Linked DNA regions of Homo sapiens. The protein of the gene in region 2 interacts with the protein of the main gene of each other region in a pairwise test. Each region holds a gene or a part of one and is shown on either strand. Other genes may lie near its edges.

The links.
Region 1: the proteins of GLE1 (region 2) and SPRED2 interact in binary tests that used the Homo sapiens proteins (3 or more experiments, as listed by UniProt).
Region 3: the proteins of GLE1 (region 2) and EXOC6 interact in binary tests that used the Homo sapiens proteins (3 or more experiments, as listed by UniProt).

What each region holds. Positions count from the first base shown.
Region 1 is NC_000002.12:65,335,077-65,338,731, forward strand, and holds part of SPRED2 (sprouty-related, EVH1 domain-containing protein 2), read right to left. Parts: intron 1-3,655. UniProt on the Homo sapiens protein: Negatively regulates Ras signaling pathways and downstream activation of MAP kinases. Recruits and translocates NF1 to the cell membrane, thereby enabling NF1-dependent hydrolysis of active GTP-bound Ras to inactive GDP-bound Ras.
Region 2 is NC_000009.12:128,511,076-128,514,730, reverse strand, and holds part of GLE1 (mRNA export factor GLE1), read right to left. Parts: intron 1-3,655. UniProt on the Homo sapiens protein: Required for the export of mRNAs containing poly(A) tails from the nucleus into the cytoplasm. May be involved in the terminal step of the mRNA transport through the nuclear pore complex (NPC).
Region 3 is NC_000010.11:92,949,368-92,953,022, reverse strand, and holds part of EXOC6 (exocyst complex component 6), read right to left. Parts: intron 751-3,655; coding exon 641-750; intron 1-640. UniProt on the Homo sapiens protein: Component of the exocyst complex involved in the docking of exocytic vesicles with fusion sites on the plasma membrane.

The DNA.
Region 1 (3,655 bases), on a different chromosome or scaffold from region 2:
ATTTCAGATTACTGCTTTTATGTTGGGGTTTTTATATTGATGGTCATCTAGCTTCCCTCCCCCGAGGCTCCAAATTCCAAAAGTTGAAAAATTAACTTTACTCTAAAATTTCTCCTCTCCCAACTTCTGGCAATACCAATCCCTCTCCACTCTTTTTCTCTGGCTCATCATCTCTGTGGTCATCTTTGCCTCCTCTGCCTATCTCCTGTATTATTAATCACCAGGTCCATTTCATTTTTCCTTCAACAGCTTTTATATCAACCCCATTTCAGTTGCTGCCACCCTGATCTGGGTCTCTATTAACTTTATGTTTGGATTAATAGAACAATATTCAAGTTTCTAGCAATTTAATCTCAGAACTGGCTTTTACTGAGTTGTAATGAGTAGATTGATCTTTTTATCTCTAAGATGGAAAGAACACCAATGTTATCAATGAGAACAAGAACATGCTCTGAAAACACTGAATAAATGAGAAACCTAATTCACATTCATTGTCCAGTATATCTTCCCTGTCAAGTTTTATATGTACTCCAATTCTCCTTCTTGTCATCTTCACAATTTAGTACCTGATTTCAAACTATTCTTTAACAGTTTCATGTGTATTAGTCTTGTTCCCCTAACTAGACTACAAAAAGTCAAGATTATAAAATAACCCCGTCTAGCACAGTTGATAGAGATACTAGAATTTATTTAATATTATAGAAAAGAAACATTGCAATAATTTGAACGTAAACTTCATTCTTTATTCATTAAAAAACTCAGACTACTTACAATATTTATTCCTATGGCTTCATTACAAACACCATAATGATTTTGCTAAGTTTTAATAGCCCAATCTTGTTCTGGCAAAGATCTGCATTTACCGCAATGTGATCTTATTAATTTAGACTAAATGAAGGACAAGAGTAAAGACCTGCCTAAATTAGTATACAGATAAATTAGAGAATATCTTTAAATAAGTATAAATTCTAAGAATAGATCAAAGCAAAAAGAAGGAGGCCAGTACAGTGGCTCATGCCTGTAATCCCAGCACTTTTGGGGGCTGAGGCAAGAGGATCACTTGAGCCCAGGAGTTTGAGACCAGCCTGGGCAACATGGCAGGACCCTGTCTCTAACTAAAATACAAAAATTAGCTGGGTGTGGTGGCACACATCTGTAGTCCCAGCTACTCAGGAGATTGAGGTGGGAGGAACGCTTGAGCCTGGGAGGCTGAGGCTGCAGTGAGCTGAGAAGGTGCACCACTACACTCCAGCCCAGGTGACAGAGTGAGACTCTGTCTCAACAAAAGGAAAAAACAAACGAGAAATAAATTAAGGGTTGTCTAATGAATGTTCCCTAACTTAATAAAAAAATGAGAATAATATTCAAATTGGTATATCAAATAGTAGTCCCAAGCAGTTAACTTTATTACATTGTATTGAGATCGGACAACAGTTCCCTCCCATAATTCTATTTATGATTAAATTGCTTATTATAGCCATTTCCCCCTAAGAATAGCACAATGATTAAATGTCAGCCCAGCCCCATTCCACATTGGGGAAATCCAAATAATCAAGAATTTAACAAATGTTATCTATTTTAGAATTTAATAGTCTCAATTCAAAGTCTCAAAATAAACTTTTTGTATTCTAAAAACAAAGACTCCTAGTTTCTCCATATTTTGGGGGTGAAAAAATTAGTCTTTGGTTGATATTTTCCAACTTTGAAATTATTCCAAAGGTACATTTTCTTAGAAAAGTTTAAGTAAAATGGCCGGGCGCGGTGGCTCACGCCTGTAATACCAGCCCTTTGGGAGGCCGAGGCGGGCGGATCATGAGGTCAGGAGATCGAGACCATCGTGGCTAACACGGTGAAACCTCATCTCTACTAAAAATACAAAAAATTAGCCGGGCATGGTGGCGGGCACCTGTAGTCCCAGCTACTAGGGAGGCTGAGGCAGGAGAATAGCGTGAACCCGGGAGGCGGAGCTTGCAGTGGGCCGAGATCGTGCCACTGCAGTCCAGCCTGGGCGAAAGAGCAAGACTCTGTCTCAAAAAAAAAATAAAGTTTGAGTAAAATAAGTTCAGCCACCTAAATTAAGTGAGGGGGGAAATCAGATACCATCTCTTTATGTCCTCTAAAGCAAAATAGTATCATATGTATCTAAGTTTAAAGACAAAAATGAAAAGGTTTTAGATGCTTTAATCTTCCCAACAGATATAAACTCTCTGGTGAAGTTTTGGCACGCACACAATTAGACACTAACTTAAAACTTGAGAAAGGCTTTAAAAAATACCCGTTTAAATAAGATGCATACGGAGAAAAAAAGTGATTATGTTCTTGTTCGAGACTTGAAAAAAAAAACTACACAAGAAATACATGTTGTGGGAGATTTAAGTATTAGCTGAAGACATGAGGACTCCATTCCTACTCATCTCTCCCCTCCACCGTCAACATCCCTCTCTGTCGAGTTCCCCACTGTCAGTAGAGCGGGCACAATCCCAGTTTCCATTTTGTGGCTTCTTTACATATACACAGGTAAGTTTCTGTGTAAGGGCAACTGTGTTTAAATGTAGCCACACCTATAAGTTGTTTTTAACTTGCTTTTTATTTTCCTTAAAAATATGTCATAGAGATACAGGAAGGTAAAATAATTGTTTAATTCATCTGTATGGATGTATTAGATTTATTCAACCATTCTCCATACTAACGGACATTTATGTCAGTAAGAATTGGTCACCTTGAAGGCAATGCTGCAATTTACATCCTTATCTATATTTGAAGTATAAATTAGAATTCTAGACAGCTTCCTGGTACTTAAAGACTTTTCTAATGAGTCAGTGGCAATATTAAAAAATGTAGTTTTTTTGATATTAATGAGTCAGTGGCGATATTAAGAAATGTAGTTTTTTTATATTAATGAGTTAGTGGCAATACTAAGAAATGTAGTTTTTTGATATTATAGAATAAAATGTATCAACATTTGGAAGATCTGCTTAACTCAGTGGAGCACTATTTTTCAGGTGACCAGTGCATGATGTTACAAAATCAGGGATGAGTAAGAGATCTATTGAAAGTGAAAGAGTCCCTCTCCCTCTCCCGTCTCCCTCTCCCGTCTCCCGTCTCCCTCTCCCTCTCCCGTCTCCCTCTCCCTCTCCCGTCTCCCTCTCCCTCTCCCGTCTCCCTCTCCCGTCTCCCTCTCCCTCTCCCGTCTCCCTCTCCCTCTCCCGTCTCCCTCTCCCTCTCCCGTCTCCCTCTCCCTCTCCTTTCCACGGTCTCCCTCTCATGCCGGGCCAAAGCTGGACTGTACTGCTGCCATCTCGGCTCGCTGCAGCCTCCCTGCCTGATTCTCCTGCCTCAGCCTGCCGAGTGCCTGCGATTGCAGGCGCGCGCCGCCACGCCTGACTGGTTTTTGTGTTTTTTTGGTGGGGACGGGGTTTCGCTGTGTTGGCCGGACTGGTCTCCAGCTCCTAGCCGCGAGTGATCCGCCAGCCTCGGCCTCCCGAGGTGCCGGGATTGCAGACGGAGTCTCATTCACTCAGTGCTCAATGGTGCCCAGGCTGGAGTGCAGTGGCGTGATCTCGGCTCGCTACGGCCTCCACCTCCCAGCCGCCTGCCTTGGCCCCCCAAAGTGCGGAGATTGCAGCCTCTGCCCGGCCGCCACCCCGTCTGGGAA
Region 2 (3,655 bases):
TGTCTCTACTAAACATACACAAGACATACCCTGTCTCTACTAAACCCTGTCTCTACTAAACATACACAAGACATACTCTGTCTCTACCAAACATACACAAGTTAGCCGGGCATGGTGGCACGTGCCTAGGCATGGTGGCGGGCGCCTGTAGTCCCAGCTACTCGGGAGGCTGAGGCGGGAGAATGGCGTGAACCTGGGAGGTGGAGCTTGCAGTGCGCAGAGATCGTACGACTGCACTCTAGCCTGGGATACAGAGACTCCGTCTCAAAAAAAAAAAAAAAAAAAGTCTGCTATCCTCCTACACCCAGTATGGACTTGAGGAATGAAAAATATGACCTGAAGGCCAGAGTTCATCTTTGAACTTTTCTAAGTTTTTTTTTTTTTTTTTTTTTGAAACAAGATCTCACTCTGTTTCCCAGGCTGGAGTATAGTGGCGTGATCACGGATCATTACAGCCTGGACCTTCCAGCTTCAATTGATCCTCCTGCCTCAGTCTCACAAGTAGCTGGGACCACTGGCGCACGCCACCACACCTGGCTAATTTTTGTATTTTTTTGTAGAGACAGGGTTTTGTCATGTTGCCCAGGCTGGTCCCAAACTCCTAGTCTCAGGCAAGCCTCCTACCTCAGGCTCCCAAAGTGCTACAATTACAGGCATGAGCCACTATGCCTGGCCTATTTTTTTTCTTTTTCTTTTTCTTTTTTTTTTTTTTTGAGATGGAGTCTCACTCTGTTGCCCAGGCTGGAGTGCAGTAGCGCAATCTCGGCTCACTGCAAGCTCTGCCTCCCGGGTTCATGCCATTCTCCTGCCTCAGCCTCCCAAGTAGCTGGGACTACAGGAACCCTCCACCACGCCAGGATAATTTTTTTTGTATTTTTAGTAGAGATGGTGTTTCACCATGTTAGCCAGGATGGTCTTGATCTCTTGACCTCGTGATCCACCCGCCTTGGCCTTCCAAAGTGCTGGGATTACAGGCGTGAGCCACCGCACCCCGCCTTTTTTCTTTTCTTTTTTTTTTTTTTGAGACAGGGTCTTACTCTATCACCCGTGCTGGCATACAGTCGTGCTATCTAGGCTCACTGCAGCCATGACCTTCCAGGATCAAGGATCCTCCTACCTCAGCCTTCTGAGTAGCTGGGACCGTAGGCATGAGCCATCATGTTCAGGTAATTTTTTTGTAAATATGGAGTTTCCCCATGTTGCGCAGGCTAGTCTCGAATGCCTGAGCTCAAATGTTCCACCTGCCTTGGCCTCCCAAAGTCCTGGGATTCCACACCCAGCTTTTTTATTTTCATTAACACACCTGACATGGATATCTTTGAACTTTTCTGATGAAGCTATCTGGGAATGCTAACCTAAGAAGATGCTGAGTCCAGGGCTACCAGTAGCCATCTTGCCACCTAATCTATCTCAACAATGAAACCAATAACTGAGAAATGGAGAGGCAAAGCCCCATGTTTGGGACACTAGATTGAGTCAAAAATAATCAATCCTATGTGGGGGAGATGTTTGAAAAATAATAATAAATAATGTCAAGCAGAAAGATGCAGAATGTAGATGTTCCTAGATCTAGGTGATTCCAAATGCACTCCTAGACTTCCTAGTTACATGAACTAATTAATACTTCCCTCAGTCCCTTAAGCCAAACTGGGTTTTTCTTACGTAAATACCAAAAATTCCTAAATAATGTGACAATCCATTACATAAAACCATTTAATAATTTATTAGGCCAGGCGCAGTGGCTCCAAAAATTACGGAATTTTATACGTGAAAATAACCTCGGGCTGGGCACGGTGGCTCATGCCTGTAATCCCAGCATGTTGGGAGGCCAAGGCGGGTGGATCACCTGAGGTCACCTAGCCTGACCAACATGGTGAAACCCCGTCTCTACGAAAAATACAAAATTAGCCAGGCATGGTGGCGCGTGCCTGTAATCCCAGCTACTCAAGAGGCTGAGGCAGGAGAATCACTTGAACCTGGGGTTGCAGTGAGTCGAGATCACGCCATTGCACTCCAGCCTGGGCGACAAAAGCGAAACTCCATATTAAAAAAAAAAAAGACCTCAGCAATTTGGTCCAGAATGAGATTTACAGATAAAGACACTGAAGTCCACTGAGGAAAAGAGGCCCACCTGAGGGCACGCCACAATATTGGCAGGATCAGATCAGAATCTGTTGCCAAGAAGCTGCTCATAAAAATACTTTTTAAAAATTTTAATTTTTAAATAATTAATGTTCACAGAAGGTTGCAAAAATACATACAGGAAGGTCGCATGTACTTTTCACCCAGTCTCCCCCAATAGTAATGTCTTTCATAAATACAATAAAATAACAAAACCAGTAAATTGATATTGGTACAATCCACAGAGCTTATTCAGATTTCACCAGTTTTAAAGGCATTCATTTGTGCTTATGTATAGTTCTATGTAATTTTATCACATGTAGATTCATGTAAACACCACCACACTCAAGATACAAAGCTGTTCTATCACCACCAACCACCCCATGTCACACCTATATTTATAGCCTCACCACTTCCTCCCCCATCCCTCATCTCTAAGCTATTCTCCTTCTCTACAGTTCTGCTAATTCAGGAATGTTAAATAAATAAATCTTCACCCAGGCCGGGCCTGGTGGCTCACGCCTGTAATCCCAGAACTTTGGGAGGCCAAGTTGGGCAGATCACCTGAGAACAGGAGTTCGAGACCAGCCTGGCCAACATGGTGAAACCCCGTCTACTAAAAGTACAAAAATTAGCCAGGCATGGTGGCAGGCGCCTATAATCCCAGCTACTCGGGAGGCTGAGGCAGGAGAATCACTTGAACCTGGGAGGCGGAGGTTGCATTAAGCCGAGATTGCACCATTGCACTCCAGCCTGGGGGACAAGAATGAGACTTCGTCTCAAAAATAAATAAAGAAATAAATCTTCACCCAGCCCTAGATTCTGGTTATGTTTTAGTTCTAAAAGGCTTACAGTTTTTTTTTTATGTTTAAGTCCATGATCACGTTAATTTTTTTTTTTTTTTGAGATGGAGTCTTGCTCTGTCGCCCAGGCTGGTGTGCAGTGGCGCAATCTCAGCTCACTGCAAGCTCTGCCTCCCGCGTTCACATCATTCTCCTGCCTCAGCCTCCTGAGTAGCTGGGACTACAGGTGCCCGCCAACTCGCCTAATTTTTTTTTTTATTTTTAGTAGAGAAGGGGTTTGACCGTGTTAGCCAGAATGGTCTTGATCTCCTGACCTAGTGATCCACCCGCCTTGGCCTCCCAAAGTGCTGGGATTACAGGCGTGAGCCACTGCACCCGGCCAAGTTAATTTTTATATAAGGTATGACATTTAGGTGGAGGTTCCTTTTTTTCCTTAAGACGTTCAGTTGCTAAAAATATATATTTTAAAGTACCTAGACCTTTTCTGGCAACAACAACAACAACAAAATCAACATAAATATATATATTTATGTATATTTATAATATATATATTATTTATTTTGTTGTTATTATTTACTCAGTCTCTATATATACATATATTTTGAGACTGAGTCTTGCTCCGTTACCCAGGCTAGAGTACAATGGCATGATCTCAGCTCACTGCAACCTCCGTCTCCCGGGTTCAAGCAATTCTAGTGCCTCAGCCTCCCAAGTAGATGGGATTACAGGCG
Region 3 (3,655 bases), on a different chromosome or scaffold from region 2:
TGGGGATATACTCAAAGGAAAATAAATCATTTTACCAAAAAGACACATGTACCCATATGTTCATTACAGCACTATTCACAATAGTAAAGACACAGAATCAACCTAGGTGTCTATGGCAGCACCCCTGGCCTCTACCCACTACTAGTTCCAGTAGCACCTCCCCATTGATAGCAATGTTGGATTGGATAAAGAAAATGTGGTATATAAACACCATGGAATACTACACAGCCATAAAAAAGAACAAAATCATGTCCTTTGCAGCAACATGAATGCAGCTGGAGGCTATTATCCTAAGCAAACTAATGCAGAAACAGAAAACCAAATACTGCATGTTTTCACTTGTAAGTGGGAGCTAAACACTAGGTACACATGGATGTAAAAATGGAAACAACAGATACTGGAGACTACAAGAAGGGGAGGCAGGGGTTGAAAAACTACCTGTTGGGTACTATGCTCGCTACCTGGGTGACACGTTCAAGCATACCCCAAATCTCAGCATTACACAATATGCCCCTATAACAAACATGTACCCCATGAATCTAAAATAAAAGTTGAGGAAAAAAAAGTTATGGCATAAAAATAAAGTATTAATGTTTCATAAAAGTTATGACAAAAATGCATTTGTGATTAGTAAACTCACCTCCGGTGTAGTGACTCTGAAAATTTAAGGCTGGCATAAATAAATTCTTTAACTTGAATGTAAATATGAGGCACTGACTGAGACATGGGGAATTTCTTTGGGAAAGACTGCTGTAGAAAAAGAAAGTTAATATTGTTTTTGAAATTTTAGAAAAAGACATGCTAATCACTAAAAAATGTAAAATTAAATTGATTTCACACTTGAATAGCAAATACCTGCATCAAAAACTCTGTTATATTTCTACATTTTTGATATTTTATCAAAATATTTCTGAAGAAAATAATGTGGCAATTTACCCTTGTTTCTTAAATCATATTATCAGACTTCCAACAAGCAGAGAAAACACATACCAATACCTCTGGTGTATTCTGATGATGAGTATTCTGGTGATGAGTATTCTGTCTGTAGGCAATGCCTAGGCTGTCTGCTTCTTTGTGTATTTATCATACAAGAGTCAGGGTGGCCATGAAAATTATAGGCCAGCTTTCTGGCTCAGAGTCATTAAATAATTCTAAGACTCCCTTCATTTACCTTCAGTGAAGGCTTGATGCCAATTCAAGAAGTTATCGAGTTTATTCCGTAACTCCTAGAATACCTTATAGCAGGTTTCTGACCTCCATGCCATTAAACACTGGTATGCAGCCAATGGCTTACAGGGTCCTTCCTGGCTAAACTACTTTGTAAGTCATTATGCATTTGAAATTCTCAGTCTCTAAAAGGTAAACTCCTTCCAAGATTGTTATTAAAAAAACCCTCTTTTCTATTTCAGTAAGTCTAATATACCCTTCTATCTTCACCTTCATTGCAACCTTGTTATATCGGTGAAAGTACCATCACCAAGATCACCAGTGATCTCACAGTTGTTCAATCCAGTGGTTTCTTCAGCTCTCATGTTACCTGACTTTTTTGAAAAATCTGACACAGTTGACCCACTCCTACTTCATAAATGATCTCTCCTTCCTTGGATTCCTGCCCACACTGGTTTTCCTCCTTTTTCTCTACCTACTCTATTTCTTTTCCTCTAGCCATTACTTAATTATTGCTGTGCTTTAGGGTTCTGTCCTAAACCCTCTCTTTCTACTACATATACTTTTCTTGGATGATCTCATATGGTCTTATGACTTCAATCACCATACAAGTACCAATATCTCCAAATCTACAACTCCAGATCAAATCTTTCTCTTAAGTCCAAATTCATGTATCTACCCATTGGACAGCTCCATTTGGCTGTACCATTGAGATGAGTTACTCAATAGATCCAAAAGTGAAATTATCATCTTTTTCTTCTAAATTTGCTCCTTTTCTGTTTCTTATCACAGTGAATGCTGCCACCATCCAAGGTGGAAACTTGGTTATCTTACTTGACCCCTTTATCTCCGTTACCCCTCATATGCACATAATCAGCAACTCCTGTTGCTCCTACCTCCTAAGCATCTCAAATCAGCTTCAATGACCATAACCCCCATTCAGGTTACATAACCCTCTTCTCTCATCAAGATAAATGCAAAAATCTACTAGGTGGTCTCCCTGCCACCAGTCTTACTCTTTTCCAATCCATTCTCCACATATAGGTCTTCCTAAAGCACAAATCTGGTTATGTTTTTACCACTTAAAATTCTTTCATGGCTTCCCATAACCCTCAGGAAAAAGGATAAACTCTTTAACACTGTTTAGTAGGGCCATTATGGTCTGGTCCTTTCTACTTCTCCAATTTACATCTCTTGAGCTTCATCTCTTGTACTTCATCTACTTTGACCTTTATGCAGCCTTTCTGCATGGTGCATCCCCTATCTTAAGCAATGCAAACTTCTGTGAATTATAATTTCTTATTTATTTTATCTATCCTCACTTGACTATAAGCTCCTTAACACCAAAGACTGAAAATCTAGCACATAGCACTGTTTCTGGTATATAGTAGGTATATGAAAAATATTTGAAATTATTTTAATGATATTAAAGGCAGAATATAAATATGTTCTTATTTTGGCCAAATGATTCTAATAAAATTAACATAGCTATCTACAAAAACATTTTTGCATGTATGTTTACTATTACTCCTCCATTCATAATTTATGTTGAAAATAACTCAAGTTATTTGATAGTTTTATATATTTTCTAATAGTTTTAATTGAAAATTATACTTAAACTAGGAAAAAATATACACACACAACCAAAAGACTTTATTAAATAATTTATGAGATTTATTTTTCAGTTGTCATATTTTAATTTTCCATGTGACTTTAACTATTAACAGTTCTTCTTTTTAATAATGAGTAATACATAGACCAATGAATACAACTTCTAAGAACTTAAGAGGTACTGCATATATTAGAAATGCTCTGCAAGCAAAGTTAAATTTCCTTTTAATTATAAACCTATTATGATTGGAAGGGATATTAGAGATTACTGAGTTCAAACTCCTCATTTGACAGATGAGGCACAAATGCCCACACAGGCTCAGTCATTTGCCTATAATAAGCCACAAGCAGCCAGGTACAGTGGCTCACGCCTGTAATCCCAGCACTTTGTGTGGCTGAAGCAGGCAGATCATCTGAGGTCAGGAGTTCGAGACCAGCCTGACCTACACGGTGAAACCCTGTCTCTACTAAAAAAAATTACAAAATTAGCTGGGCATGGTGGCGCATGCCTGTAATCCCAGCTACTTGGGAGGCTGAGGCAGGAGAATCACTTGAACCCAGGAGGCAGAGGTTGCAGTAAGCCGAGATGGCACCATTGCACTCCAGCCTGGGCAACAAGAGCAAAACTCCGTCTCAAAAAAAAAAAAAAAGCCACAAGCAGAGCTAGCACATGAATCTAGACCTAGTCTAGTGCTCTTTATATAGACACTAGCCTGAACAAACTCATTACCAGTAACTAAAAAAAAAAAAAACTAAGCCATGAGATAGAGAATATTCTGGTGATATTTCTTGACAGAACAACTTTCATTGGGCTTTCAAAAAATACAGAATTAGAATAATTATTCTGGCCTCTTGTATTAAAACATAGCTAATAGGT